Homo sapiens: one gene and its partners. The protein of the gene in region 1 interacts with the protein of each later gene in a pairwise test. Each region holds a gene or a part of one and is shown in the gene's direction. Other genes may lie near its edges. The genes, in order: CYBRD1, LPAR3, TMEM120A and VAPB.

Region 1 (7,366 bases):
AGGTGCCTGCCACCACGTCTGGCCAATTTTTTGTATTTTTAGTAGAGACAGGGTTTCACCGTGTTAGCCAGGATGGTCTCGATCTCCTGACCTCAAGATCTGCCCGCCTTGGCCTCCCAAAGTGCTGGGATTACAGGCGTGAGCCACTGCGCCCGGCCAGCTTCTAGGTTTTTAGGAAGGCCATCTTCTTCAATGCTCTCCCCCACCTGCTACATCAGGAATCACCCAACAGCATTGCTGACAGGTTATTGAGTCTGATTAGGTACTTTGGTGACAAACTGCTTACAATCTCCAGAGGGAAACTTCTATCATTTAACAACTCTGTTTTAAAAAAGTTCACAGGCAGGGGTGGTGGCTCATGCCTATAATGCCAGCACTTTGGGCCGCCAAGGCAGGTGGATCTCCTGAGCTCAGGAGTTTGAGACCAGCCTGAGCAACATGATGAAACCCCCTTTCTACCAAACATACAAAAATTAGCCAGGCATGGTGACACACGCCTGTGGTCCCAGCTACTTGGGAGGCTGAGGCAGGAGGGTGAGTCCAGGAGGTGGAGGCTGCAGTGAGCCAAGATCATGCCACTGCACTCCAATCTGGGTGACAGAGTGGGACCCTGTCTCAAAAAGAAAAATAATTAATTAATTAATTAAAAGGTTAACAGTAAGCCACAACAATGTTTATTGAAAAATTTCCCCTTCTCAGTGACAGTTTTATTTAATATCAAAGTTAGGTTCTTAAAAGATAATTTAAAAGTTGAAATTCTCTCAGTTTTACATATAACTTCAAGATGATTCAACACCATTGGTACCATTTGGCCATGTTTTCATCCTCCCGAAATGTTTTGTTAAATGGGGTCTGGAATCCCAGAGATTCTCATCTGCTGCTGCTATGAAGCAAAATTAACTCAAGAGTGGAGTGAAGGTGTTAGGTCAATGGGGTGAAAACATTAATTGAGGACAAAGACTAGATACTTTTAGGGAGAGGGATAGGGATACAATGATGTCATTATAGAATTACAAGCTAAAGTTCGCAAAGGAAAAGAATCAGTGTAAGATGAAACAGGCAATGTTTGCAGCACTCAGGAACCAAAAAAAGGTCTGAAAAAATAAAACCGGAAGATTCAGGGATAGTTTCCTTTTATTCCTAGGGATCCGCTCTCACTCTTCTCTCTTCTGCTCTGTGCCCTAAGTTGACCTGGGATGGATACATGGACTGCCCTGTGGCTTCTGATTAGGTTCTGGTTAGCCCCTGGGACACCCTAGGCAGAAGATCAGAGGGGAGAAGAGTAAGGCTGGAATATTTATCTGCTTCCATCTTTCTCCCTATGAGGTCTCTGCAGGCTGGCTGCATCCCTGTACTCAAGGCCTCTATCGGACTTCCCCCTCCGCACAATTTTCTCTCTGGATTCCAGTAATTCTCTGCCCTTCAGACCTGGGGCACTGCCTAACCCTGAGGTTTCCTACACTGCCCACAACTTCATAAACAGTCTTGTTCATTATGAAATTACTCAATTCCAATATGCTGTTTGTTTTCTGCCAGGACCCTGATTAACACACTCAGTCTCATTAGCCTCCCAACACATGTTTATTGAGTAACTACCACATCCCAAGGAGGAATAAAATGATCAATTAGAGAATCAATGCCTTCAATAGGGCAGTCTGAGAGTGGAGACAGCCAGAGAAGCAGATCCTTATATTACATCCTGACAGGTGACACAAGGAGGCACTGGATGGGGAGGTCAGTGGGATATAAAAGTCTGGGCAGGGGCAGACTCAGGGAAGGTTTCTCAGTGGAGATGGGGGTCAGGGAAATTTAGAGGCAGTGGCGTGGGTAGGAAGTGGTCAGAAGCTGCCAGAGCAGTTTACAGCCAAGGACATCAGGGCCAGTCAGGTTGTGGTAAGAGACTGGCAGGGGGTGCTAGGCTGGACCAGATCAAAGAAAGCCTTGTGCTGGGGAAAGGTATCCTTCTCTTCCATTTGCTTACTCTCCCCACCAAGGGAAAAATAATGACACAGGTGAGGTCTACAGCCTTTTACTCTGAGCCCTTAATCCTGCCCTACTACCATGGCTTGCCACTCCTATTTCCTTAGCCTGCTTTGAAAATCATCCCCGTATACTTCCTGCACATTCTAAGGTCTTTCAAGACGGCAACAAGACAATATAGCAAAGTAGTCCTTGGAGATGAGCTACAGAAGAGGGCTAGAAGTGAACGTTCCCAAATGCATTCTGGAAGCCCTGGCAGTCAGAACCCTTTTTCTTATAATAGCATTAGATAATGCTGACATTGTTTTTGTCCAGTGGAGAAGGGTGAGGATAATGTTGGAAAGAGGGCAGGGAGCAAGCTTCACTTCATCAAGGAGGGGCTTTGGTTCAAATTGGTTTGGGTGGGCGGGCACTTTGAAAATCCATTTGTCACACTAAACGGCAAGTCCAGGTCCAGGAGGTTCCTGTCTTCCCTCTCTCAAGAGCAAACTGCAAGTAGTTTCATTGCAGGATAAGGCCAAGCCCACCGCTGCCCATGCTGTTTTTGTTTTGTTTCCAGACAGAGTCTAGCTGTCACCAGGCTGCAGTGCAGTGGTGCGATCATACCTCTCCTGAGCTCAAGTGATTCTCTTGCCTCCACCTCCCAAAGCCCTGGGATTACAGCTGTGAGACACCTCATGGGGACCCGGTTTACTGGGTTTTTTTTGTTTTTTGTTTTTTGTTTTTTTTTGAGACAGAGTCTCACTTTGTCACCCAAGCTGAAGTGCAGTGGTGCAACCTCAGCTCACTGCAGCCTCGACCTTCTGGGCTCAAGTGATCCTCCTTCCTCAGTCCCCCAAGTAGCTGGGGCTACAGGTGCATGCATTTGTATTTTCAGTAGAGACAGGGTTTCACCTTGTTGCCCAGGCTGTTCTCAAACTCCTGGACTCAAGTGATCTGCCCGCCTTAGCCTCCCAAAGTGCTAAGATTACAGGTGTGAGGCACTGCGCCTGGCCTTTACTGTTAACTTAAAACAAAAAATTATAAATTTGAAAAAAGAGGAGACTTTATTTCTTATAAAAGGTTATAGCCTGCAAGGAGGCCATTCCATAGGCTGATAAACATAGCCTCTGGCCTAAGACCAGAGACAGGCACTTGGAAGGCAGAGGGGTTGGGGTAGGAGCTTTATGCTGAACAGTTTGGCCAAACATACATACGTAACAGGTTACAGGAGGAGCTATGAATATTAATGGAGGTGGTCCTTACACATGCATATTGAACAAACATGCATGTAACATGTTCTCTTTGGGGTGGAGACTTAACATTTAATTGTATTACTTCAAATACATTTAAATGTATTACTTCAAACCTACACTTCAAAAGGTCTTTTCAGGACGTGAATGCATACAAGTGCACAATCCCTGTACACTGGCCAGAACCGGTCCATGGTCGGTCTTCTTATCATGAAAAAGTTCCTGAAATCAGCCCAGTGAAAGCTGTAGTTCTGGCTGGTGCAACAGGGGTTCAGCTGGTCAGCATCTGTGAACTGATTAAGTTGTAATTGTTTTAATATTGCTTATCTCAAGCCAGTGCTTGTTTAGCCTCTAGAGGAAAAGAAAACCTTTGTGGCAGTTAGACCATAGTTTATTTCTTAAGTGTAGGAGTGTGTGACTTAGGTCCTTTTTATAATTTGATGTCTTATTGCTACAAAGAGTCTGTTCTGTCCGCCTTATGATTTCTATTTTAAACATTAATGCTAGTCAGCTGTTGAGTCTAAATTCCAAAATGGAGGGGGTAGACTTCCCTTCCGGCTGTAGCTAGAAACTCAGCTTTAAGGTTTTTCTGGGGTCTGCTTGGCCAAGGAGGTCCATTCAGTCAGTGAGGGGCTTAGGATTTTATTTTTAGTTTACACCACCTTACAGGTTCCTCCTTAACACCCTTTGATGTCAGAGACAGCCAATTCTCCAGCACTGTGGCTAAGGAGGCTTCGTTAGTAGTTAAAAGCACACACATAACCCTACCCAACGGATCCCTCTCTTCTCTTAACCAAGAGGGCGCACCACTGCCCTACTCAACCTCCCCACAAATAAGGACGAGACACGGGAAGTGTTAAAAGCAAGTGGTGAGTATAAAATCCTCGGAATTTTCTCTTTGAGCAACTAACTAGGTCTGTTACTGAAGCCCTCTGCGAGCTTGGATGCTGGACGAGGGAGAGGGTGAGGCCACCAGGCAATGAGCGCCCTCGGCGGCCGCGTGATCCCGGGGGTGGGGCCCATTTCTGAGTTGGGGCCAGCTCCCCACCCCCAAGAGGCCCCACATTCCGGGCCAGCAGCCCAGAAAGTCCCTCCCCGCAGGCGGAGACAGCCCCAAGAAGTCGACGCCCCGGTCCCGCCGCCCGGCCACTACCCAGAGGGCTGCCGCCGCCTCTCCAAGTTCTTGTGGCCCCCGCGGTGCGGAGTATGGGGCGCTGATGGCCATGGAGGGCTACTGGCGCTTCCTGGCGCTGCTGGGGTCGGCACTGCTCGTCGGCTTCCTGTCGGTGATCTTCGCCCTCGTCTGGGTCCTCCACTACCGAGAGGGGCTTGGCTGGGATGGGAGCGCACTAGAGTTTAACTGGCACCCAGTGCTCATGGTCACCGGCTTCGTCTTCATCCAGGGCATCGGTACTGGCACCTCCTGGGGGGGTGCGGGGAGGAAAGCGGGGAGAACGGCGGGGGCAGAGGGTCCTCCGTGAAGCCCCTTCCAGCTGAGGAAGTGCTGGAGGATCGCGGGGCCCGGAGGAGTGCGGTGAGGAGCGCGCGGGAAGCCAAGTCGGCTGGGCGGGAGGGAGGCTGGCTGGCTCTGGGGCGGGACAGAGCTGCGGTTCAGGAGGATCGCCGCGAGCGCGGGGCCGGGGGTGCGCGGTGGAGACGCGCTGCTGGGGGCGGCGGAGCGGGGCCGGCCCCACTTGGTTAACTCTTTGCGGCGACTGGCTAGGACGCACTGGAGGGGCCTCCAAGACCCAGAAACTTGAGCCCGGGCGCGATGCCGGAGCGCCGCGCAGTCGGGCCGCTGCAGCCCACGCGCCCCGGAAAGTCGCCCCTGTGGACCGAGCCTGCGCGATCGGGGGCGCGGAAACACTTTCGCCTCAGCCTTTTGCTGAACTTGCTTCCAGGCTGCAGATGAGGAGGGGAAGGCAGCGGGGAAAAGATTGCCGGAGCGAGAATTTGCCCGTATTTGTAACATCCTCGGCCCTGGGTAAAGGGGCTGGCCAAGGGGGGCGAGTGAAGCATCCGCCCTGGGTTCCTCTCCTCCTAGAGTGTTAAACTCAGTCGAGTCCGGGAAGCTGCCAGGACTTCCAAGTGTGTTTCGCCGCCCTGCCCAGTCATTGGACGGTCTTGAGCCCGACTTGTTTATGTGGCAGAAGAGTGGCGAAAGTTCCCCCGCGGGGCTTCCTATTGGGCACTGGCCCAGCACTCCGGGTGGGAGATGCCCGGAGAGGGCCCGCGGCTGCCTGGCACCGAGGGATGCCTCTGCTCGGGATGCCCCCGGCGCAAGCTGCGTCCGTGTTTGGCCCGCGGCGAGCCAGCCCCGGGCCTGCATTCTCTGGGCTGAGGCTGGCGCGGGGGAGGGGCTCAGCAGTCGCTGGCAATGTTTGTTGTCATTGTGTAGTGCCTCTCAATGTCCTGACTGCTTCCTTCGGTTTGCCGTGTAGCTGGAGGAACCTCTAGCTTTTGGCGCAAACACCATTTATTTGTAACCACTTCCCCAAAGGCACGGCCTTCAGAAAGTAGTTAGAGAAAGGCAGCAAGGGGTGGAGTGGTGTTATGTCGCAGAAAATAATCGAGAGGAGTAGCAAGGGTTTGGAAAGATATGCCCACTGGCCGAAATCTCTAGCTTTGCCTGCGGGCAGGCTGCCTTTTCTTCACCAAATATTTAACTCCCCACAAACGAGTGTGCAAAAGAGTGCTGACCTCATTCCTAAAGAAAAGTGATTTTGGCTTTTGTTTTTGTTGGTTGTTTTAAACTTGTACTGCAGCTTTGGCAAGTGTGGCCAGCATTCTCCCACTCTGGAATGTAGTGGAAGGTGTTACTAACCCTCAGCATTCAAAGGCTTCCCTGGTGTGAGATCGGCATCAGGGTGTGAGATCGGCATCAGGGTGTGAGCACCACTGGGCACCTAAGGCATTTCGTTGCGTAACTCTCAGTTATTTTGCCACTATGCTTATAAGAAAAAAACATACTCAAGTTCCAAAGTAACTGTCAGAAGCACTCTTTCCTTCGTGGTGGAGCCCTTAAGTTTGGCCCCGAGCTGTCTACACCTTGTTTGCTCAAAGAGTAGAGCCAGTCTCCTCTTCTACCCAACTCTTCAGAGCAGCTTCTAATACCAAAAAGCTTTCTGGAGGTCTTGGAATATCTTCTCATAATTGAGGGTAAGGGAAACACAAGTGTTATTGCTCGTTGCCTGACTTGCCACAGAGGAGAAGACATCAGAATGGCTAATAGTGATTGCATGCTGTGTGTCCACTAAGTGCATTATGTCACATCACATGTATGTAAGAGTAAACTGAGGCAGAGAAGTTATGTAACTTACCCATGAAAGTTGTTTTAAGTCTTTTCAGTGACCTTATCGTCAAAGTTGGATTCTCTGCTTTTATGGCAATATGCTTATTTTCTGCCAAATCTTTTTAGACAGCGAAAACCTTCATCTAAAATATGTTTTGAAACTCTTCATTCATGTTAGAGTCCAATATACGGTTTTCTAAAAGGTTTTTAAATTTCTCTAAACTTTGTACTTCTCTTAATCTGTTCATACTTAACTCTTGGACAAAAATGTGTAAATTTTGGCAATTTTCATCTGCTGCTCTTACGAAAATCTTGTTTCTTTTTTTCTTTCTTTCAAGACGTAGTCTTGCTCTGTCGCCCAGGCTGGAGTGCAGTGGCGCAATCTTGGCTCACTGCAACCTCCACCTCCCAGGTTCAAGCAATTCTCCTGCCCCAGCCTCCCCAGTAGCTGGGATTACAGATGCCTACCACCACGCCCAGCTAATTTTTGTATTTTTAGTAGAGACGGGGTTTCACCATGTTGGCCAGGCTGGCCTCGAATTCCTGACCTCAAGTGATCCGCCTACCTCGGCCCCCCAGACTGCTGAGATTACAGACGTGAGCCACAGTACCCGGCCGATCTTGTTTTCTTTAGGTTCAATTACTGTATTTGTATCAATGGTCCAGAGTTTGTCCCGTCATTACTCATCCTGTTTCCTGTTTGGATCCTGGATGTGCAAATCACTTTAATCATAATGCATTTAATTGACATGAGCATAAATGTTTTCATACATGTAGGCACATGTATAGTTCTCCCCAGTTCTTCCATATCTTGGCCAACCCATCCACATTCCTCACCCTAAGTATTAGGAAGGCTCCAGTG
Region 2 (7,023 bases), on another chromosome or scaffold:
CTCCCTTCGTCATTCCTCCTGCAGGTACTGAGCCTCCCCCTTTCCGGCCTTGATGATCCTTTGTTCCTCATCCTGGATTCTGTATTTGTGGAGGAGTCACCTGGAACTCAGTCCTGCTGTGGATGGCAGAGGTGGTGATGGGGCTGGGGAGCTATCTGCATAAGTGCAGAGACTTTGTGCTTTTACAAACGGTGGACTAGAGGTACTTGGAGCACAGGGTTCTGTCTTTGAATCCTAGTCCCACTTTTGTGAGTTCTTGTGACCCTGAATAGATTGTCATGTTTAAGTTTTTTTCATTTATATAGTGGGGATAATAATTACTTTTCTACCTGTCTACATGGATTGTTAATGAGTTCCATTAACTTATGTACGTGAAAGAGCTTTGTACCCTGTGAAGAGTGCATAAACATTGGAATTAAAGAGGCAGGACATCCAGATGTGGGCCACCCCAGGCAGGCCCACTCAGCTCTGGCTATTGGGGGTTGGCAGTATCTCCACAAGCATGTTTTGAGTGCTAAGGGGGCACTGCTGCAGTTCTTCCATATTCCTCTCTCCCGTCCTCTGACATCATACTGGACTTCGAGGAGGAAATAGCATCAAAGGTTGAGAAACTGCTCTGTGGGGAATATGAGAGGAAGTTAAATTTCAGGACTGAGGTTACCCAACACTACATGATCGAAGGCATAGGGCAAAGTTCCAAAGAAGCTTTAATTTCGTGTTGGAATTACCTGTACTGTCTGCGCATCTCAGTTCTTAGTGGACAAACACAAACAGCTGGCCACCACCCATCCCACAGGTCAGGAGGAGGGTGCTGATGGCAATGTTGGACAATGTATTGGGTCCACCTATACCATCCTCACTCCCCTGTGCCTTCTTGCTGACTTGGGTCTCTAGTTTACTCTGCAAAGTTCTAAACTGACCAAAGGCATTGCTCCCCCACCCCCAAATTAAGCTAATTACTTAATTCAGTCTGAAAGATATTTGTTGCTCTCTACCTGTCCTGGCAAGCCAGCTGGAGGGTGGGGGAGGGGATTTAGTACCATTGAGGGGAAGGTTCTGACATCCTGGGTTATACCCACCCCTCTCTTCATCACCCCCAGTCTTATGTCCTCCTCTTTATTCCTCTTCCTTGGCTGGCCTCTTGTCCTGTGTATCTACAACCTTGAACTCCTCCCTTGCCCATGACCCCTGATACTGCCCTACTCCCATGATTCTGTCACCCCTCTTCAGATGTGAATCATTTGTACACCTCAGGCTGGGCCAGACTGGGTGTCACTGTGGAAAGCAACCTGCCCAGCACAGCCTGCCCCACCCCTTCCTGAGGATGTTCATCAACCCCTCTAATTACTCATCAGCTAGTCCTGTGTCTACATTGTTCCCTGGGACATTAAGCTGGAGCTTCTACTAGCCCTGGCCTTGACTCACCCATGTGCAGATTGACCAGTTATCAAGGGATGGCTTGGCAGGTGGCAGGGCTGGGTTGGAGGGCACATTAGCCCCTCCATAAGTGCACTATTTGGTCCAAAGGCCTTCCAAGCAAACATGCGGTCTAAATAAAAGCAGTGTATTTGCTTTATAAATGCAGCTTTAAGGCAAGCCCCTGGTCTCCCCTTTTAAGCCAAGCTATCCCGAAGCACATCCTCTGTAGAAATTCTGGAGCTGCCCCCAGACAGACTCAGACCATGTAATTCAAAGATAGGCAGCGGAGTCTATCAGCAGCATTCACTCCCTAAGGAGGTAGAAAGCCAGAGTTAAGACTCAAAGCCATTGGCAGTGACTAGTTATAGAAAACCAAAGCAAGGGATCAAGTATAGAATTTATTGGGAGCACATCAGTGAATCATTTACCTCCTGCCCTGTTTGATTTTTAGTAAGTCAGTTCGTCGAATGGGGGTAAGGAAGGCCTTTCTCTGGACAAAAACTATCACATGGGTCTGGTGAAGAGAAAATAAGTAGTATAATCTTTTTCTATGTCTCCATGGCATTAGGTTTGAAATCTCAATCTCTCCCTCTCTCTCCCTCCCTCCTTCTCTCTGTCTCTGCCTCTCTCTGTGTGTGTGTGTGTGTGTGTGTGTGTGTATGTATGTATATATATATATATAAAATATACATCATCAGTCTTTATTCTGAGAGGAAGTCATAGACATTATTCTCCATCACTCTTGAAAACACTCCAGCATAAAAAAAAAAGCAAGCACTCTGTCCTCCTATATAACCAGCGTACACCCATCAAATCAGGAAATGGACATTGATACAAAACACTATCATCCAATCCACAGAGCCCATTCCTATTTCGTCAGTTATCCCCCAAATGTCTCTTCTACCTGTCTGATCTAGGATTCATGTTACATTTAGTTACCATGTCTCTTCTGGAACGGTTCCTCAGACTTTCCCTGTTCCTAAAGTGTTTGCAGTTGTATAGGTCCTACATGCTGTAGGATGACTCCCAACCTGGCTGTATTGGGTATTTCTTCACAGCCTGACTGAGGTCATGCATTCTTGGCAGGAATCCTTCAGAAATGAAACTCAGCTCTTCTTAGCTTCTTACAACAGAAGGCACATGGTGCCAACCCATCCCACTGCTGGGATATTGACCTCAATCACCTGGTTATGTTGGTGTTTGCCAGATTTCTTCACCTTAAATTCGCCATTTTTCCTTCGTTTCCCTTTGTTTCCCCAAAGGTGTTTGAAAACACCTTTGTACTAGTGTTTGTGGGGAACTATTCTAGGGTTATGCAAATAGCCTGTTCCTCATTAAACCTGTACCTACAGAAACTACCATTTATTGATGACGTCTGCCTGAATCAGCCACCTCTATGAATGTTGCCAAATGGTGATTCTTTTTTTTTTTTTTTAAGACAAGGTCTCACTCTGTTGCCATGCTGGAGTGCAGTGGCATGATCTTGGCTCACTGCAGCCCCAACCTCCTGGGCTCAAGTGATCCTCCTGCCTCAGCCCCCCAAGTTGCTGGAACTACAAGTGCACACTACCACACCTGGCTTATTTTTTTTTTTTTGTATTTTTTGTAGAGATGGAGTTGGTTTCACCATGGTGCCCAAGCTGGTCTCGAAATCCTGAGCTCAAGTGATCCACCTGCCTTGGCCTCCCAAAGTGCTGGGATTACAGGCATGAGCCCCTGCACCCAGCCTCAAGTGATGATTCTTTATCACCGTCACTCTTTCTACATTTGTTAGTTGGCATACTACTATAAGGAAGAACTTTATTTTTCTGTTATGTTTTTACTAAGAACTGTTCATGGATTCCTTATGTATTCAATAAGTTGAAGTCTCACGATTGTTTTTTATTTTAATGCTCAAATTGTGCTCAATTTGGCCAATGGGGACCCCTTGGAGCTGCCTCCTGTGTCCTTTTAACACATCCCTATTATTCATTGAGCATTTCTTTATTTTCTGGCTCCACCAGATCATCTGGACTCATCTTCTACTTTCCTTGACCTAGTTAGGCCTCCCTTTTAGTAGAGAATGGTACTTTTGTCTTATTTATATTTTATATATTTAAGGCATACAACATGATATTTTCATGTATTTATCTTGATAAACATAGATGTAATGAAGTAATTACTACAGTCAAGCAAATTGACATGCCCATCATAGTTACCTTTCTTGTGTTTGTGATAAGAGTACCTAAAATCTACTCTCTTGGCAAATTAGCAGAATACAATATTTATTAATTTTAATTTTTTTAGAGACAGGGTCTTGCTCTGTACTACAGGCTGGAGTGCAGTGGCGTGATCATAGTTCACTGCAGCCTCTAACTCCTAGGTTTGAGCAGTCCTCCTATCTCAGCCTCCCAAGTAGCTAGGACTCCAGGTGCTCACCACCATTCCCGGCTAATTTAAAAAATATTTTTTAGAGGAGGGGTCTTGCTGTGTTGCCCAGGCTGGCCTCCAACTCCAGCCTTGAATCATCCTCCTGCCTTGGCATCCCAGGTGCTGGGATTACAGGTATGAGCTACCATGCTCAGCCTCAATACAGTATTAGTAACTGTAGTCCTTGTGTTGTACATTAGTGGAAACAGGGAAAAACAGAAGATGTAGATTAAAAGGTACGAAGTTGCAGTTATGTAGGATGAATAAGTCTTGAGATCTAATATGCAATATGAGAATTGTATTTAGACACCAATACATAGGAGGTTGATGTGCCCATTGTTACTGGGGTATTATTGCTTCTAGATCTCTCAGAGGACAGAGCTAGGAAATATATGTGTATATGTGTACACACATTTATAAATTTTTCTATATTAGGCTGTGTATTATAAAATCATGATTCATACTTATACCTACAATTTCAATCTAACACCCAAAGAGCTTTCTGTTCTTCCCCCTTTATATGTTTGTACATATCTTCTCTGGCAGTTAGAAAACCTGACTCTCATTATCTTCAATATTTTTGCTTATTTGCATACAGTAACCAGTCTTACAAATGTGAAGGTCATCCTGCCTCCTCTGTGTCCACCACCTTTGCCACTGCCTCTTGTCCTCGGCTGCCAGGCCTGCTAGCCTGTGTCTCTATGTAGCTTAATCATCAGTCTCCAGTCCCTCTAGCTCACAGCTCTTCCCAGCCATAGCTCATGTCTCTATGTACCTCCCCAAACTCCCCAGCCTCACGTTGCATTCCCAGCTACATGCTGATTGCTGTGTTCTGGGGAAGGAAGAAAAGAGAAGGGAAAGGAAGAAAGAAAATAGGAATGGAAGGAAAGCAAAGAGGAATAGTGTATATATTTTAAAGTCTCATTAGATATTGCCAAATTGCCTTCCCCCAAAGTTCTATCAGTTTACATTCTCACCAACATGTTATGAGGGTACTATTTTCCCCACATTCTTGCCAACACTTGTTGGCAAGTAATAGCCGCTTGTTTAAATGTTATCAATCTGATAGCACTCCAGTTTTAGCTCTATTACAGCTCTGCCACACTTAACCCTGTATTATATGTCTCATCTCACCCTCTAGGTCAGGATTTCTCAACCTTAGCACCACTGACATTTTGGACCGGATACTTCTCTGTTGTGGAGAGCTGGCCTGTGCATTGTAGCGTGTGCAGCAGCATTCCTGGCCTCTGCCCGGTAGATGCCAATAGTACCCCCCTCCCCCAAGTCATGACTGATGCAGATGTCTCCAGATATTGCTAGGAATCCCTGGGAGGAGGAGAGGATTGGCCCTGGCTGCTCTAGATAATGAGTTTCCTGGGGGAATTTTGCATCTTTACACATGTCTTCATGCACTTCTGTCTTTGACGTACATATGCTGAACAGTGAGAGAACGTTAGCTGGACAGGGATGAGAGGAATAAAAGGTTAGGTGGAATCCACTACAACAGGACCAGTGGAACTTGTTCACTGCAAGTATGCAACTTTCCACAAATGCAAATTCCAGGAACATCCAACAGAGGGAAGTGAAGAGGAATGTCAGCAAGGTTAACTTTCCATGGATTGCTACCAGGTTATTACTTGTCTTTCTGAGTTCATTTTTGCCCCAGTTTCGTACAGACAGACAATGAGGTCTGTGGCCTATTTCAGCTGATATACTCTGTTTTGTTGATGGGGAAAGTAAAATGCTTTAGGAGAAGGTGTTAACATCATTTAACATTGTAGAGGTAAACTGAGTTTCTTCTGAGCTTTCTCTGAAACAGGCAAACTGACTAATGGTTGCTAATTTCTATGATGCATTTAGAGTTTTACTGTGATATTTTCATTTGATTATATAGATTTTCCTCCATAAACTCTTACCAAAAACTCTAAGGAGAGATGTGCTTCAAGATTTTTATTGACATTTACCACAATCATTATGTTAGAAATGCAAAATGCTTGTTCCCCGGTGCCACAAAGAAATAGCGCTTGAACATAAATTTAATTCTCTCAGCAAGGCAATTTTTACTTTCTGCGGAAAGGGTATACTCACCAGCAGTCTTGCCACGAGAGTACACCAAACAAAGGAAAAGCAGACATATTTATCCCTTACACATTTGGGTTGTCCTCACTGCTGTGTCCTGCATCCACTGGCTGGAGCCGAACCTCACAGTCTAAACTGATACCCGATTTGCTAAGAGCCTAAAACTTTTTTAGATAGGTAAAGGCAAGGGAGAACAAAGGAAAAGAGGAAGTTGCTTTTGAAAAATTTAAAGAAGTAATAACATTTCCAAATAAGAAAGGGGCATAGGCTGTGAGCTGGAACATGCCTGTGAGCATGTCCAACAGCTACATGCTTAACAAAGAGTTATTAGCACAAAGCAAGGAGGCTTGAAGAAAAATTTTAAAAGAAACTATTATTTCTAACATTTATGATTTATTATTTAACAAGAAGGGAAACTTTGAAGAGGAAACTTTTTACTTTCTGCAATTATATTTCTTCTAGATTCAGTAAATGTTTGCAAAAGGCATTAATGTCATTATGGAGAACAAATCTACGTCTTACATTTCTCTGGGGGTCAGGTGGCAGAGACTGCTTCCAAAAAGAGGCTCCAGTGGTCAGTATTGTTTAAAAAAAAAAAAAACAAAAAAATCCCTGGGCCAGAAGGATGAGGGCTGGTCAGGGTGAATCAGTCCCCAATTTCTACATTTCTTCTCTGTAAAATGGAGAATGCTGAACTGCCCATCTCACTGTGGGATCAAATGGGGAAAGAGATGTAAACTTTGAAATTTGTTCACTAGTATATCAGTGAATGTGTTTTGGTGGATTACTCCAAGATCCTGAAGGAGTGGTTTAGAGGAAGTATGGTAACATAGTAAGAATGTTAAACATTAGGTTTTCAACCCAGCTGGCTAAACCCCTCTTTCCTGATTGTACACATTCATCTGGGACTCTGGGACTAAAAGGTAATGAAAAACACCAGCTAGTGACTCTCTGACTAGATTGGTAGAAGAGAGAAGGCTTTGGCTTTAGGGTGTTATTGTGGTGACCCACCCAGTGTGAGGGAAAGGATTCTTCCTTTGGTCTCCTCTTCCCAATATTCTCTGTTGGGGTCCCTTTTCCCCAGCCTTTTGGGAACAAGCTCACCGTGGAGCTCAG
Region 3 (7,544 bases), on another chromosome or scaffold:
GAGTCTCGCTCTGTCACCCAGGCTGGAGTACAGTAGCACAATCTCGACTCACTGCAAGCTCTGCCTCCCGGGCTCATGCCATTCTTCTGCCTCAGCCTCCCGAGTAACTGGGACTACAGGCATCTGCCACCACTCAATTTCTTTAATATATGTAGGCCTATTCAGATTGTCTGTTTCTTCTTGTGTGAGTTTTGGCAGTCTGTGTCTTTCAAGGAATTGATCAATCACATTTGTGGATATGAATATTCTTCTATTATCCTTTTAATGTCTGTGGGATCTGTAGCAATGTCTTCTCTTTCACTTCTGTATTAGTAATTTGTGTCTTCTGTTTAAGTTAGCCTGGCTAGCGGTGTATCGATTTTATTGATCTTTTCAAAGAACCGGCTTTTGGTTTTTTTGATTTTCTCTATTGATTTCCTGTTTTCAATTTCATTCTTTGCATGGCGTATCTAGTTTTCCTAGCACCATTTGTTGAAATGACTGTCCTTTTCCCCCATCGAATGGTCTTGGCATACTATCAAAAATTCCTTGACAGGCCCGGTGCAGTGGCTCACACCTGTAATCCCAGCAGGTTGGGAGGCAGAGGTGGGCAGATCACCTGAGGTCAGGAGTTTGAGACCAGCCTGGCTGACATGGCAAAACCTCGTCTCTGCTAAAAATACAAAAATGAGCCAGGCGTGGTGGCACATGCCTGTAATCCCAGTTACTTGGGAGGCTGAGGCACAAGGATCACTTGAACCCAGGAGGCGGAGGTTGCAGTAAGCTGAGATTGCACAATTGCACTCCAGCCTGGGCAACAGAGTGAGACTCAGTCTCAAAAAAAAAAAAAATTGCTTGACCATATAGGTAAGGGTTTATTTCTAGGCTAGGCTGGCTATTCTATTCCACTAGTCTCTTTGTCTTCATGTCCATACCATACTGTTTTGATTACTGTAGTTTTGTTAGACTAAGGTTTGAAATCAGGAAGTGTGAGACCTACAACTTTGTTCTTCTTAAATATTTTTTATGGGGTCCTTTGAGATTCCATATGAATTTTAGGATGGATTTTTCTATTTCTACAAAAAATGTTGTTGGGATTTTGATAGGGATTGCCTTAAACCTGTGGATTACTTTGAGTTGTATTGGCATCTTAATAATATTAAGCTTTCCAACCCATGAACACAGGATGTCTTTTCATTTGTTTGTACCTTTAATTTCTTTCAGCACTGTTTTGGAGTTTTCAGTGTACAAGTCTTTTGCCTCCTTGGTTAAATATTTTATTCTTTTTGATGCTACTGTAAATGGAATTGTTTTCTTAATTTCCTTTTTGAATTGTTTAGTATATAGACATGCAACTAATTTTTGCATGTTGGTTTTGTATCCTGCATCCTTGCTGAATTTATTAGCTGTGTGTGTGTGTTGTGTGTGTGTGTAATCTTTAGGGTTTTCTACATATGAAATCATGTCATCTTCAAACCAGAGGTAAGGTTACTTCTTCCTATCCATTGTAGATGCCTTTTATTTCTTTTTCTTGCCTCATTGTTCTGGCTAGGACTTCTAGGACTATGTTGAACAGAAGTGATGAAAGCAAGCACCCTTGCCTTGTTCCCGATCTTAGAGGAAAAACTTTATCTTTCGCCATTGAGTGTGATGTTAGCTGTGGGCTTCTCATATATGGCCTTTATCAGGTTGACATCACTTCCTTCCTTTTTTGTTTTTGAGACAGAGTCTTGCTCTGTCACCCAGGCTGGAGTGCAGTGGTGCAATCTCGGCTCACTGCAACCTCCGCCTCCCAGGTTCAAGCAATTTTCCTGCCTCAGCCACCCAAGTAGCTGGGATTACAGGCATGTGCCACCATACTTGGCTAATTTTTGCATTTTTTTAGTAGAGACAGGGTTTCGCCACATTGGCCAGGCTAGTCTCGAACTCCTGACCTCAGGTGATCCACCCGTCTCGGCCCCCCAAAGTGCCAGGATTACAGGCATGAGCCACTGTGCCTGGCCATTTCCTTCTGTTCCTAGTTTTAGGCACCACTCTTGCCTTTCCCTTTTTCGTTTGTCCTCAATCCAGATGGAGACCAGGTGCTCACCCTCCTTCATGCAGCAACACTTCCTGTACTTTAAGGTGGATGCCTGAAGGAGGGCAGCTTGAATTTTCTTCTTCAGAGAATTTGCCCACAGTTCTCTTCCTCTTTCCATTAATTTGTCCAGTCACAATGCAAACCTTTGTTGAGACTGCACTAGGCTTGGCATAGTGTTTGCCATCCACAGGTGGTTTCATGTATATTGTCTTAATCTTCCCAGAAGCTGTTTGAAATAGGAATTATTTCTGTCACCAGATTTAGAAGCAGAGGGGCTTGCCCAAGGCAGAGTCAGCTCCCATGACTCCCAGCACTGATGCATTCATGCCAGGCTGCCCTGTTTCTGCATCCAGCCCTTAAGCCGTGTTGCTGGCACTGTGCAAGTGCCTCCTGTCTCTGAAAGCTGCCTCTGATCCAAGTGGAAAGGGCCCAGGACCAATCGTGAAGTTCACTTTCTCTCTTTGTATTCATAGAGGTCCTGGGCCTATGTCAAGAAGTGCAAAAACAACATGTGTCCAAATCGGGGATTGGTGAGCCAGCTGCTGGAATGGGAGAAGACTATCCTTGGAGATTCCATCACAAACATCATGGATCCGCTCTACTGATCTTCTCCGAGGCCCACCGAAGGGTACTGAAGAGCCTCACCTGGGGGCATTTTGTGGGTGGAGGGCCAGAGTGTGTATACCCAGGCTTGTCTGGAAGGAGAAGGCCTTTGCTGCCTGAAAGTCTCATGTTAGCCTCCTGTACTGATTCTTCCCAAGTGCCTGTTCACGCCACCTAGCTGATGCGCCCTGCTCAGGTTCACCAAGAACCCGCATCCCTGAGGTGTCGCGGGCCATCCCAACTGCACCCCTGAGGCTGCCTCTGGAAGAGCATCTGGCTGCTAGAGCAGCTGCCCTGCATCCCCCTGGTGACTTAGACCCTTTGGAGGCTGCCTGGGGGTACCCAGAGGTTGCCTGTGTTGGTTCACAGAGGATGTCACAATAGCCACCAATAGGCAGTCCCCTAGTCCCAGAGATACCAAGCCCAGCCTTGTCTAGCCCCCAGGCTCCTAGAATGGGATCACACCCTTGCCTCATCCCCAGCGCTTCCTGCCATCCACCCCTTGAAACAGATTTTCTTTCCCTGCTCCCCACTCATTTCTGCCTGGCTGTGTTCACCAAGGAGAGATTCTCACCCCCTCCCCCATCTCCCTATCCACGTTTCTAGAAATTCCTAAGGTCTTAAAAGTTTTCCTTTTTTTTACCCCCTTTCCTTTTTTTTGGAGGCACGGTCTTGCTGTGTCTCTCAGGCTGGAGTGCAGTGGCGCAATCATGGCTCACTGCAGCCTCAACTTCCCTGGGCTCAAGCGATCCTCCCACCTCAACCTCCTGAGTGAGTAGCTGGGAATGCAGGCATGCACCATCACACCTGGCTAATTTATTTTTATTTTTGTAGAAACAGGGTCTTGCTCTGTTGCCTAGGCTGGTCTCGAACTTCTGGGCTCAAGTGATCCTCCAGCCTCGGCCTCCCCAAAATGCTGGGATTACAGGTGTGGGCCACGGCACCCAGTTGGAAGTTGTTTTCCAAATGCACTTCTCCAAAGCTGGCAGCACCCACAGAACAAACTGGGCATCAGGAGACGGCACAGACTAGGGGACTGGTAGGGGATTAGGATGTCCATCCATGCAGGACCTTCCCCAAGTCCATTCGGCAACCATTCCCTGCCACCGCGTGGGTGGGGCTGGGAACAGAGAGATGAATGCCGTCCCACCACTTAGCGCGCTCTGTGGAGGGATGGGGGTGGGAGGGGGTGGGGGATTCCCCTCAACAGAAGGGCAGGCCTTCAAGGAGGAGTGGGGTTTTGCCAGAGGGGGAACGGCTTTACACACAGCCCTGGCTTTCCTCAGGGTGTGAGTTGGGACAGAGCCCGGGATGGCTGCAGAGCTCCGATTAGGGACCTCCTGGTAGGCAGGACACAGCCGCTGGAAAGTTTTAAGCATGAACATGATGGGGAATCAGCCTTGTGTTTTGGGAAGGGCAGTCCGGTGGCCGCGAGAAGGGACAGTGGAGGTGAGGCAGGGAGAAAGGAGGCCGCTGTAAAAATCCAAGCGAGAGAAGCAGCTCTAACTCCCTTCCCCAAAGAGGCTCAGCTTCCCAAGGACGAAAATGTTGCAAGCAGGTGTCACCTCCCTGCACCTTGGTTTGCTCTCAGCATGACGGGCCAGAGCCCTGCTGGCTGCACCACGCGGCTGGCACAGTCAGTGCAGTCCAGGCCCGGGGGCTGCAGCCGTCCCAGTCCCGGTCCAGGCCGCGAGTCCCGGGGCTAGCAACCGCCCTTGCATACGGCCCCGCCCATACCCCGCCCCTGTCCCGGATTGGCTGGGGTGGGGGGCGTGGCCTTTCCCCATTGGTGCCCGTGGCGGCGCGAGCCCGGAAGCGGACGGGGGCGGTGGCGGAGGAGCCTCGGGTGGGCCGGGGTTGCTGCGCCGTCCTCCACTACTGGCTACTGGCGCTGCAGCCATGCAGCCCCCGCCCCCGGGCCCGCTGGGCGACTGCCTGCGGGACTGGGAGGATCTACAGCAGGACTTCCAGAACATCCAGGTTAGCGCCGCTGCGGACGCCGGGTCGCCCCCGAGCCGCGTCTCGCTGGCTCAGGGTCAAGGGTCGGGCAGCCCTGGGTCAGGCAGTGGGGAGCTAAGGGTCAGGGGTCGGGGCCCTGGCGTCACTGCCAAGGGGGGCGAGGCCCCTGGTCCTGGTGTCCACTGCCACCACCTCCAGTGTCCGGGAACCCCGGCGGGACCCCATCGCGCTGGGCGACCTCGGCTTCCAATGAGGGCCTTGGAAAGGGGCCCAGACCCCGACCCCGTCCCTTCCCAGAAGAGAGCGGCCGCCTGAGTCACACACGGGCGGGCCCAGCCTTGGGTCAGCCACTCAGCAAACGCGCAGCGGGCAGCGCCCGAGAGGCAGCCCAGGTCGGGGGAGCAGCGTTTAGGGGGGTGTCCTCGGCCTGGATGGGGGACGCCCCAGGCAGAGGGATACCGCGCGCCGCCGAGGCCTTTGGAAGGAAAGAGGGGACTTGACAGGCCCATGTGGCTGCATCAAGGAGAACCAGGGGAGGGGTGGGACGGGTGGGAGGGGTGGGCGGGGCTAGGCCCTGCAGGGACGCTCTGGCCTGGCAGAGATCAGAGTCCCTCCGAGGCCAGTGGAAAGCTACGGGAGGAATTGTCTGGACTGAGCTCCCCAGGGCCACCGTGGCTGTTCTGTCCAGAGGCCAGGGAGGAGGAGGCTGTTGGCCTCATCCAGGCAGGGAAGAGGGCGGTGGCTGTGGGTGGGCAGAAGTGGCACGTGCTGGGGTCCGAGGGGGCGTGGTGACCCCTCCTGGGCATGAGAAACAAGATCCAGACAGAGTAGAGCCCTGGCCAGCTGATGGCTTGGTTAGCCCTTGGCCTCTCCTGGACTGGTTCCAACTGCTTCCTGTGGGCATTGAAACCCAGCTGCCCCTGGCCCTGCCAAGGCCCCTGCCATTGGTGCTTCTCCCCAGAGACTGAGCAGACCCAGTCTCCCCGCCTGGCCGCCGCTGTCCTGGCCACAGCCCCTGCTTGGCTCTCCTCACACTGCCCCTTGCCCCATCTCTAGGCTGCGCCTTCTTGAGACTCACCTACCAGGGCAAAGTGCTTGGGGAATCCTTGGGCCAAAGGTGCTAGGGGAAGGGAGTGGGGCTGGCCTTAGAGCAGGAGGCTCTAGGGTTGAAACCTGATGACCTTTAACCTGGGAAGAAGATGTCAGGGATTCCTGAGAACCTGAGCTCCTCCTGTACTGGAAGGCTAGATAGGCAGGAGGAGCTGAGAGGATAGAGGGGTGGCTCTGGGCTGCCTGCTTGGTCCAGGAGGTGGCCCTGGGGGCCTAAGCTCCAGACTCAAGGTAGGAGAAAGAGTCTGTCCTTGTAGGGTGGGGACAACTAGCAGATGGGCTGAGACTAAGAAAACCTTGGCTGGGTGCGGTGGCTTATGCCTGTAATCCCAGCACTTTGGGAGGCCGAGGCAGGCAGATCACCTGAGGTCAGGAGTTCAAGACCAGCCTGGCCAACATGGTGAAACCCTGTCTCTACAAAAATACAAAAATTAGCCAGGCATGATGGCAGGTGCCTGTAATCCTAGCTACTTGGGAGGCTGAGGCAGAAGAATGGTTTGAACCCGGGAGGCGGAGGTTGGAGTGAGCTGAGATCCTGCCATTGCACTTCAGCCTGGGCAACAGAACAAGACTGTCTCAAAACAAAAACAAAAACAAAAACACCTAGTCTGTTTTTGGAGGAGGGGTGCTGTGGGGGTCTCTGGGCTCACAGGAGGACACCCAGGTCCTTGCCTGCCTTGGGGAGACAGCCACCTCATCCCTGGGCAGGCACAGTTCTACCTCCTTTCCCGCTGAGCGAAACCCTCCCAGCAGCCCTGGGGGAGCCTGAGCGCCACGTCCTGCCTGCAGGCTCTGGCTCAGTAGCTCCCCAACTGGCCTGAGCCTCTCCCCTCCGGCCCCCAGGAGACCCATCGGCTCTACCGCCTGAAGCTGGAGGAGCTGACCAAACTTCAGAACAATTGCACCAGCTCCATCACGCGGCAGAAGAAGCGGCTCCAGGAGCTGGCCCTCGCCCTGAAGAAGTTAGGATCCCCTACCCCACCCGCCATGGGCAGAGTGTGGGGTGGGAGGGCTGGCGCTGTGAGACCCTGGGCACCGCCCCTCCCCTCTCTGGGCCCTGTTTGCCCTTCTGCCCCTGTGGGAGTCAGGGAGGACACTTGGGAGTCCTCTTGCCCTGACTGTTTCTGGCCTTACCCGCAGATGCAAACCCTCCCTCCCAGCAGAGGCCGAGGGGGCCGCACAGGAGCTGGAGAACCAGATGAAAGAGCGCCAAGGCCTCTTCTTTGACATGGAGGCCTATTTGCCTAAGAAGAATGGGTGAGGGCCCCCACCGCCACCCCCAGCTCAGTTCACAGCCACTCCTGAAGCCGGGTGCTGCCTCCTCTTGGTCATTATAGTCAGCAAATGTTCCCTGGGCCCAGTACAGGCTGAGCAATGAGGCACAGTGCTGACTTCAGGGGAGACACCTGGCTGAGAGTGACATTTCACTGTGATAGGTGCTTTGTAGCATGGGGAATGAGGTGGCACAGTGAGGGACACCTGACCCAGTCCAGGAGGTCGCAGAAGGCTTCCTGGATTAGGGGATGGGTGGGCTGAGTCTTACAGAATAAAGAGTGGGCCGGGCGTGGTGGCTCTCACCTGTAATCTCAGCACTCTGGGAGATGGAGGTGGGAGGATCACTTGAACTCAGGAGTTCAAGACCAGCCTGGGTGACATACTGAGACCCTATGTCTCTATTTATTTAAAAAGAACAAATAGGCTGGGCGCGGTGGCTCATGCCTGTAATCCCAGCACTTTTTTGGGAAGCCAAGGCAGATCGCTTGAGGTCGGGAGTTCAAGACCCGCCTGGGCAACATGGTAAAACCCATCTCTA
Region 4 (7,023 bases), on another chromosome or scaffold:
GTGTTTAGAAGGAATGACATGGCTGTTAGTGGCTTTGTAAGTGCATAGTACTATACAGAGATTAGACAACCACTTAACTACTTAAGTGGTTTCATCACTTCTGTACCTGAAAGGTGTGGCAGAGAATAGCGATCATTCTGGCCCTGGATTGGCCAAAGTAATTATGCCAAAGTCACTGGATATTTTTGCTAGGGAAGTGGTCCAAGAGAAGTGGTACCAAATTGTTGAAGGCCTCTGGCTCATAACTTTAGAAGAGACATCTGTGTGTGTTCTTAAATGACGTCATGAGGTGTGTTGTTTGTTTGTTTTAAACTGAATGCTAAGACAGTACAATTAATAGAGACTGAATACCCTGACTTAGAGATAATTCATTTCAGGATGAGAAATGGCACATTTAACTGGTTTCTTCCAGGTTACTCAGGGTGACGACTCTGATTTCTGGTCGTTCACCTAGATGAACCTCTGAGCTAACTTTACTTGAGAAGGTAATAACTAAAATGCCCATTCAAAGGAAAAATTATCTTTTAAATGCAGCCTAAGTTGATCGTATGGGATTGTATATTGTCAGACTCTTTAATCTTGGGAATTTTGTGTGGTATGTTAAATTTAAGGATGTTACAGAAGAAAAAGAATGCAAATTTATATGACTTTATGCAGTTTTATAGGAAGTACTATGCTGCATCATAAATATCAAAAGGAGAAAGCCTGGTGGCTTCCTGAAAGAAGCATGACACAGGAGGATTTGCCTAGACTTAAGGTTGACTTTCATGAGATATTTTTAGTAAGTGAACATTAAGCTCTTTCAGACTAGGGGTATCTTTCTGAGAGAGTAAATGTTTTTGTTTTTTGGCAGGGTCTTGCTCTGTCACCCAGGCTGGAGGGCAGTGGTGCCATCATAGCTCACTGTAGCCTCAAACTCCTGGGCTCAAGAGATCCTCCTGCTTTAGGTTCCCTGGTAGCTAGGACTACAGATGCCACCATTCCTGGCTAATTTTTAAATTTTTTTGTAAAGATAGAGTCTTGCCATGTTGCCCAGGCTGGTCTTGAATTCCTGGCCTCAAGCAGTCCTCCCGCCTCAGCCTTCCAAAGTGCTGGGATTACAGGCATGAGCCACTGCATGCAGCCTAAGTGTGTGTTTTCTTTTATATTTCTTTTTGTCTTTTTCACTAAGTCATAGGAGTTTTTTAAAATTGTCACTCTTTCTGTTGATCTCAGTTCTTCCAAGTCCTAATCGTTTCCTTGCCATCTCCTCACTCTGAGATCCCACTTGTTGTCCAGCTCAAAGAGAGCTTTCCGAATGAGTCACTTTCAAGGCATTATATAGCACTCTTCTTTCATTCCCTTCTCCCTCCCCTTCCATGAGAGTCCATCTGTGGTAAATAGTATGTCATATATTTTTTGGTCGTTCAGGACTCTAGATCATTCCTTACATCCTAGCCCATTCCCCCAGCAATGATACTGTCACATGGAAATGGTCTGTTGAACATCCATCCTCACTAGGTTAAGGTTTGTTTTGTTTTGTTTTGTTTTGTTTTGTTTTTTTTGAGATGGAGTTTGGCTCTTGTTGCTCAGGCTGGAGTGCAATGGCGCGATCTTGGCTCACCGCAACCTCCGCCTCCCGGGTTCAAGCACTTCTCCTGCCTCAGCCTCCCGAGTAGCTGGGATTACAGGCATGCGCCACCATGCCCGGCTAATTTTGTACTTTCAATAGAGACAGGGTTTCTCCCTGTTGGTCAGGCTGGTCTCGAACTCCCGACCTCAGGTGATCCACCCACCTCGGCCTCCCAAAGTGCTGGGATGATAGGTGTGCGCCACTGCACCCAGCCGGTTAAGGTTTAAACATAACTGTGGATGCATTTACTTTTGCTTTATTGCTTGACTGAACCAATGACCTTCAAGAAGTCTTAGATAGTCCTGCCATTAGTAGGGATCTCAGATGGGAGGGCACCAATGAATCAGTGTAGTTGAGTACCACTTTTGGGAGAAAATAGAAACTTGGACACTCTAAATGATAGTTTAAGGACGTTGTTTGTTTTGTTTTGTTTTTTGTATGGGAAAAGTTGGCTTAGACTCTTTAGTTCAGCCCTTCAAGTTGATGTGTAATTTAAGATTGTTTAGGAAGTTAAAAAATCTAAAGCCCTGTGGATATAGTTCATTCAGTGCAGTAATTATCTTTCAGATGCCAAGTACAGCATTAATTCTTTAGCTTTAGCATGGCACTGATTTTCTTAACACTTCATGATCACGTGGAGCAGACTGTGCTTTACAGCACAACAGAGCGTCAGCCATGTGCTGAAGATTCTTCGTGGTAGTGGTTTAGATCCACCCTGAATAGATTATCTTCATTTATTTAATTATTAAGTAGCTTGCTTATCAAAAGCGGCATTAAACTTACTAAACTTGAGTCAAACGTAAATCTTCATAGATAGTACCATTTACTTCTGAAATCTTGTTCCTGGGAGAAAAATGTGGACTGGAAGTTAACTTTCTTTTATCCACCTATTCACTCCTTTTTCTTCACAGTTAACTCCTTAGGGGAAAAAATGTATAGTTCTTGACCATGTGCTTATGTTTGTAAAGCAATGATGTTTCCTTAACGTGAGTGGTTGTGACATAGATCACTGTTATCTTCATAATTACCTGGGAGCTTTTCATCCAAGTGTGGATTTACTAAAATAATTAGTCTGAATTGATGCTTATTAAAGAGCTGAACTCTTAAACGTTAACACTATCTTGTATTTATTAAAATTGTATGCATGTTTCCTTCAAATGCTGAAGGCAGAATACTGAGAACTTTGACCCTGTGTTATTATCGCTAAGTAGTTGAAAATTAGGGGAGGAGTCAAGGGAGTATATTATATTGGTTATCACTCAAATACTACCCCTAGGCATGATTTTTAGAACCGAAACTTGAATTTTTACATAAAGAATTATCTCCAAAAGTGTCTTTTTTTTTTTTTTTTTTGAGATGGAGTCTTGCTCTGTTGCCAGGCTGGAGTGCAATGGCACTATCTCGGCTCACTGCAACCTCCGCCTCCTGGGTTCAAACGATTCTCCTGCCTCAGCCTCCCGAGTAGCTGGGACTACAGGCACATGCCACCATGCCTAGCTAATTTTTGTATTTTTAATAGAGACGGGGTTTCACCATGTTGGCCAGATGGTCTCGATCTCTTGACCTCGTGATCCGCCCACCTCGGCCTCCCAAAGTGCTGGGATTACAGACATGAGCCTCTGCGCCAGGCCAAGAGTGTCTTATATATCCCCACTTTTTTGAAAAATTTGCTGTCTAAAGGATGATCATGATTTGGGACGAATGAGCACAGCTTTCAACTAGATGACAAGAAAGATGAATACAAAGAGTGCTGAGTTCCATTAGTCAAGACAAGGTTGCCATAGAATGTCTTTAATAAAATAAAACAAAAGCCTTTTGCGTTATTTTGCACCGAGGATTGTGTTAAAAACAAAGTTGCATTATGGTTTCCAGATTGGCATCCTTGTTTTTTTCTATCATTTTAGGCCCCTTTCAGGCTGTTATCAGCATAGCATATCCAGGATTGCTTTGGCCTTGCTCAGTGGGTATGTGCGTTCTTTGAAGTTCTTACCTGACAGATGTGGGCAGCTGGCTTTACACAAGGAAGAGTTGTTTAAAGAGCTTTGGTATGGAAACAAAGTTACTAAACTTGACAGTCACTTGAGGATTATTTAAAAAACAAACAAAATAACTGAATGTGGTAAAATACTATCTCTAGAATATTTTTCAAACTGTTAAATGCATCCTTTTAACAGAAGCTGTTGATGTCTACAAACACTGTCTTTGTAGACAAAGACAAACCCCCCTTGCATGGGGGTTTGGGGGTTGGGAAGCAGTTGAGAAAATGGCATAGTCCCGTGAGAAAACCTTGGAATACTTTCTTTTAATAACATTTTTTTATTGCATAGAACTGTAAAGCTACAGAAATGCTTTCTTGGAGTTTTCCTTCATCCTTTCAGAAGGGCTAATATTGACCTTTGGTTAGCATGTTAGTATTTTCACCTGTGTCAAGTGATGTCTTCACGCTTTTGGGGGGTGTGTGTGTGCATGCCCACCTCGTGTTGTGTAGGGCACATTGGCCGATACCTATAATGTGTTTCAATTACTACATTGTTGGCATTTCAGTAGGCTCCTTCAGCCTTTGCCCATCTGGGAAGTGGAGACTAGGGCAATAAATGTTTTAGGGGTAGATTGAGACTGCAGTGTTTTTCATCTTTTAGCTTGTACTTTAAGACAATGGGATGTACCCCTAGACCATTTACCTAGATTTAAATTACTTCCTTGTGATGTGGTTTAGAGCTCTAAGTTCCTTGAGTTGTCTTGAAAGGCTGAAGGGTGCTCAGAGAATGGAGGGGAATTGAAAATGGAACCTAAGGATCTGGGAGTGGTCATATGTGTGAGTGGTGAAATGTGCCCCCCAACACCCCGTTGGGTCGGGTCTGGAGTTAAAAGCAGTGGCTGACATACATTTTGCAATATAAGGGTAAAGAAAGGTAAAGAAGGAACAAACATTTCTAGAGGATAAATGCTTTAATTCCAGAAGATAGGCCACACAGTTTAGGAACTGTGGTAAGAGGTGCTTTGCCATATTTATGTTACTGTTTAATCTGTGTAACAATCGTATGAGATGACTTAGTCAGTGGCTAGGTAACTTTCTGCTGGATGAGGCTGCACTAGTAAATGGTGGCACAGGCAAAGCCTTGTACTTTCCCTCATACCAGTATCAGCTCATTAGAGTTAACTCATAAAGGGGTTTGTTCTTGAGAGAGGGAGGCAGAGAATTTAAAACCATTAATGAAGTATTAATAGCTGTCAGGACAATTTCTTAAGAACATCAATTCATTAAGAGTTATTCTCTGAATTTTTTAGGAGGGATTTCTTGCCCTACTTTTGAAAAAGTTCAGACAGATGACTCCAAAGAATGTTTGATTTCTCTTGTGAATATTCACTTTTATATCAGATTCTGATGGTTTCTTGATTCTATATATTTAGAAAGCATTCGGCCGGGCATGGTGGCTCATGCCTGTAATCCCAGCACGTTGGGAGGCTGAGGCAGGCAGATCAACTGAGGTCAGGAGTTCGAGACCAGCCTGACCAACATGGAGAAACCCCATCTCTACTAAAAATACAAAATTAGCCGGGCATGGTAGCGCATGCCTGTAATCCCAGCTACTTGGGAGGCTGAGGCAGGAGAATCGCTTGAACCTGGAAGACGGAGGTTGCGGTGAGCCGAGATCCCGCCATCGCACTCCAGCCTGGGCAACAAGAGCAAAACTCTGTCTCAAAAAAAAAAAAAAACAAAACACATTAACTTGTGGGTAATTTGTCCTTCTGCTATCCAGTCTTTGGAAGGCAGGGCAAAGCTTGTGTGTGGTAGAGATTTCATAGGCTTGCAGGTTTGTAGAGTGGGAATTCAAGAAGTTGTAAAGGGCACTTATTAAGATAGGAATGTCTAAAATAAATGATCTTTAGCAGTGCCACCTTAAACTTTGTAAGTGTTGCTACAAAACCTTTAGTTCTGCATGCTCCTGACCAGCCATTGCCTTGGACAGAGAAACAAATAAGGGTGAGTTAATAAACTAGAGACTTGTCTCAATTGTTCAAAGAGGTAAACTTAAGGTGATTAAAAAGTGCTGTTTTATTCTGTATGAGATACACTTTGGGAAGTCGTCATTTTCCAAGACGATGATACGCCAGGCATACGAATTGGATCAGAAAGGATTTAGAGACATGCATGGATATAATGATCTCTTACAGATGTTCCTCACCTTACAGCGGAGTTACATCCTCAGAAACCCATTGTCAGTTGAAAATATTATAAGTTGAAAACATATTAGATACAGCTTAACCTACCCAACATCATAGCCTTGTCTACCTTAAACATACTCAGAACCCTTAAGTTAGCCTCCAGTTGCACAAAGTCATCTAGCACAAAGCCTATTGTATGATAAAGTATTGAATATCTCATGTACTGCATATTACTAGCCTGGGAAGAGATCAAAATTCAAAATATGTCAAAATTATGATGGCTTCACACCATTGTAAAATTGAAAAATCGCAAGTCAAACCAATCGGGGATTGTCTGTACATAAGAGATGATTGTCCAAATTAGAGCTGTTTTGGGTTTCTGCCCTTTGCAGATCCTTTGAGGTTTTCTTTATAGACAGATGACTCCTTCTGGGGGAATTGAGCGTGACTCTGATTGAGATTTGGTTCAGTTACCACATACTGAAAGCTTCCTGTGGGCCAGGCACTAGGTTGCACTGGGGACCTGGGAGGAAGGCCTAGCCCTTAAAGTTTCCAGCCTCTAGGTATTGGGAGACGAGGGAAAATGGGGACAAGATATTTATGGCCTGTCCTTATTGAGAGCTTAGAAAAAGCTGTGTTAATTCTGCTTTGGGTGTTCGATCTCACAGGGAAGATGGCATTTGAGATATGTGACTTGGCGAGCTTACACTGTGCGCTTGCCATTTTTCTAAGCGTTCATTTATTTAATTCTTAATGCAAGCCTAGGAAGTGGGTACAGTTATGATCCTGAAGTTATTAACCCAAGTTATGAACCTGACTGAGGGTTGGAGCTGGGATTTGAATCAAGATCTGTCTGATTGCAAAGGCTATGGCTTTTTTTTTTTTTGTCGTCATGCTGGCTGTGTTTCTTCCCTTAAAAGATAAGTGGGAGTGTGCCCTTGGCTTTCTTATTTATTATGTTAGGAAGATGAGAGGAGGAGTGAGACTAGAGAAAGAGGCTTGAAAGAGAAATGGGATAGAAAAATAAAGGAAAAGGCTGGGCACAGTGGCTCACACCTGTAATCCCAGCACTTTGGGAGTCTGAGGTGGGTGGATCACCTGAGGTCAGGAGTTCGAGACCAGCGTGACCAACATAGTGAAACCCCATCTCTACTAAAAATACAAAAGTTAGCCGGGCGTGGTGGTGCATGCCTGTAATCCAGGTACTGGGGAGGCTGAGGCAGGAGAACCGCTTCAGCTGGGGA

Evidence for each region.
Region 2: the proteins of CYBRD1 (region 1) and LPAR3 interact in binary tests that used the Homo sapiens proteins (3 or more experiments, as listed by UniProt).
Region 3: the proteins of CYBRD1 (region 1) and TMEM120A interact in binary tests that used the Homo sapiens proteins (3 or more experiments, as listed by UniProt).
Region 4: the proteins of CYBRD1 (region 1) and VAPB interact in binary tests that used the Homo sapiens proteins (3 or more experiments, as listed by UniProt).

Annotation. Positions count from the first base shown.
Region 1 is NC_000002.12:171,518,117-171,525,482, forward strand, and holds the start of CYBRD1 (plasma membrane ascorbate-dependent reductase CYBRD1), read left to right. Parts: upstream 1-4,357; 5' UTR 4,358-4,429; coding exon 4,430-4,622; intron 4,623-7,366. UniProt on the Homo sapiens protein: Plasma membrane reductase that uses cytoplasmic ascorbate as an electron donor to reduce extracellular Fe(3+) into Fe(2+).
Region 2 is NC_000001.11:84,883,207-84,890,229, reverse strand, and holds part of LPAR3 (lysophosphatidic acid receptor 3), read left to right. Parts: intron 1-7,023. UniProt on the Homo sapiens protein: Receptor for lysophosphatidic acid (LPA), a mediator of diverse cellular activities. May play a role in the development of ovarian cancer. Seems to be coupled to the G(i)/G(o) and G(q) families of heteromeric G proteins.
Region 3 is NC_000007.14:75,991,588-75,999,131, reverse strand, and holds the start of TMEM120A (transmembrane protein 120A), read left to right. Parts: upstream 1-4,536; 5' UTR 4,537-4,561; coding exon 4,562-4,642; intron 4,643-6,574; coding exon 6,575-6,693; intron 6,694-6,871; coding exon 6,872-6,988; intron 6,989-7,544. Other genes in the region: STYXL1 (serine/threonine/tyrosine-interacting-like protein 1), read left to right, coding at 2,533-2,664. UniProt on the Homo sapiens protein: Multifunctional protein involved in mechanosensation, and plays an essential role in lipid metabolism and adipocyte differentiation. May function as a potential ion channel involved in sensing mechanical stimuli.
Region 4 is NC_000020.11:58,392,206-58,399,228, forward strand, and holds part of VAPB (vesicle-associated membrane protein-associated protein B/C), read left to right. Parts: intron 1-7,023. UniProt on the Homo sapiens protein: Endoplasmic reticulum (ER)-anchored protein that mediates the formation of contact sites between the ER and endosomes via interaction with FFAT motif-containing proteins such as STARD3 or WDR44.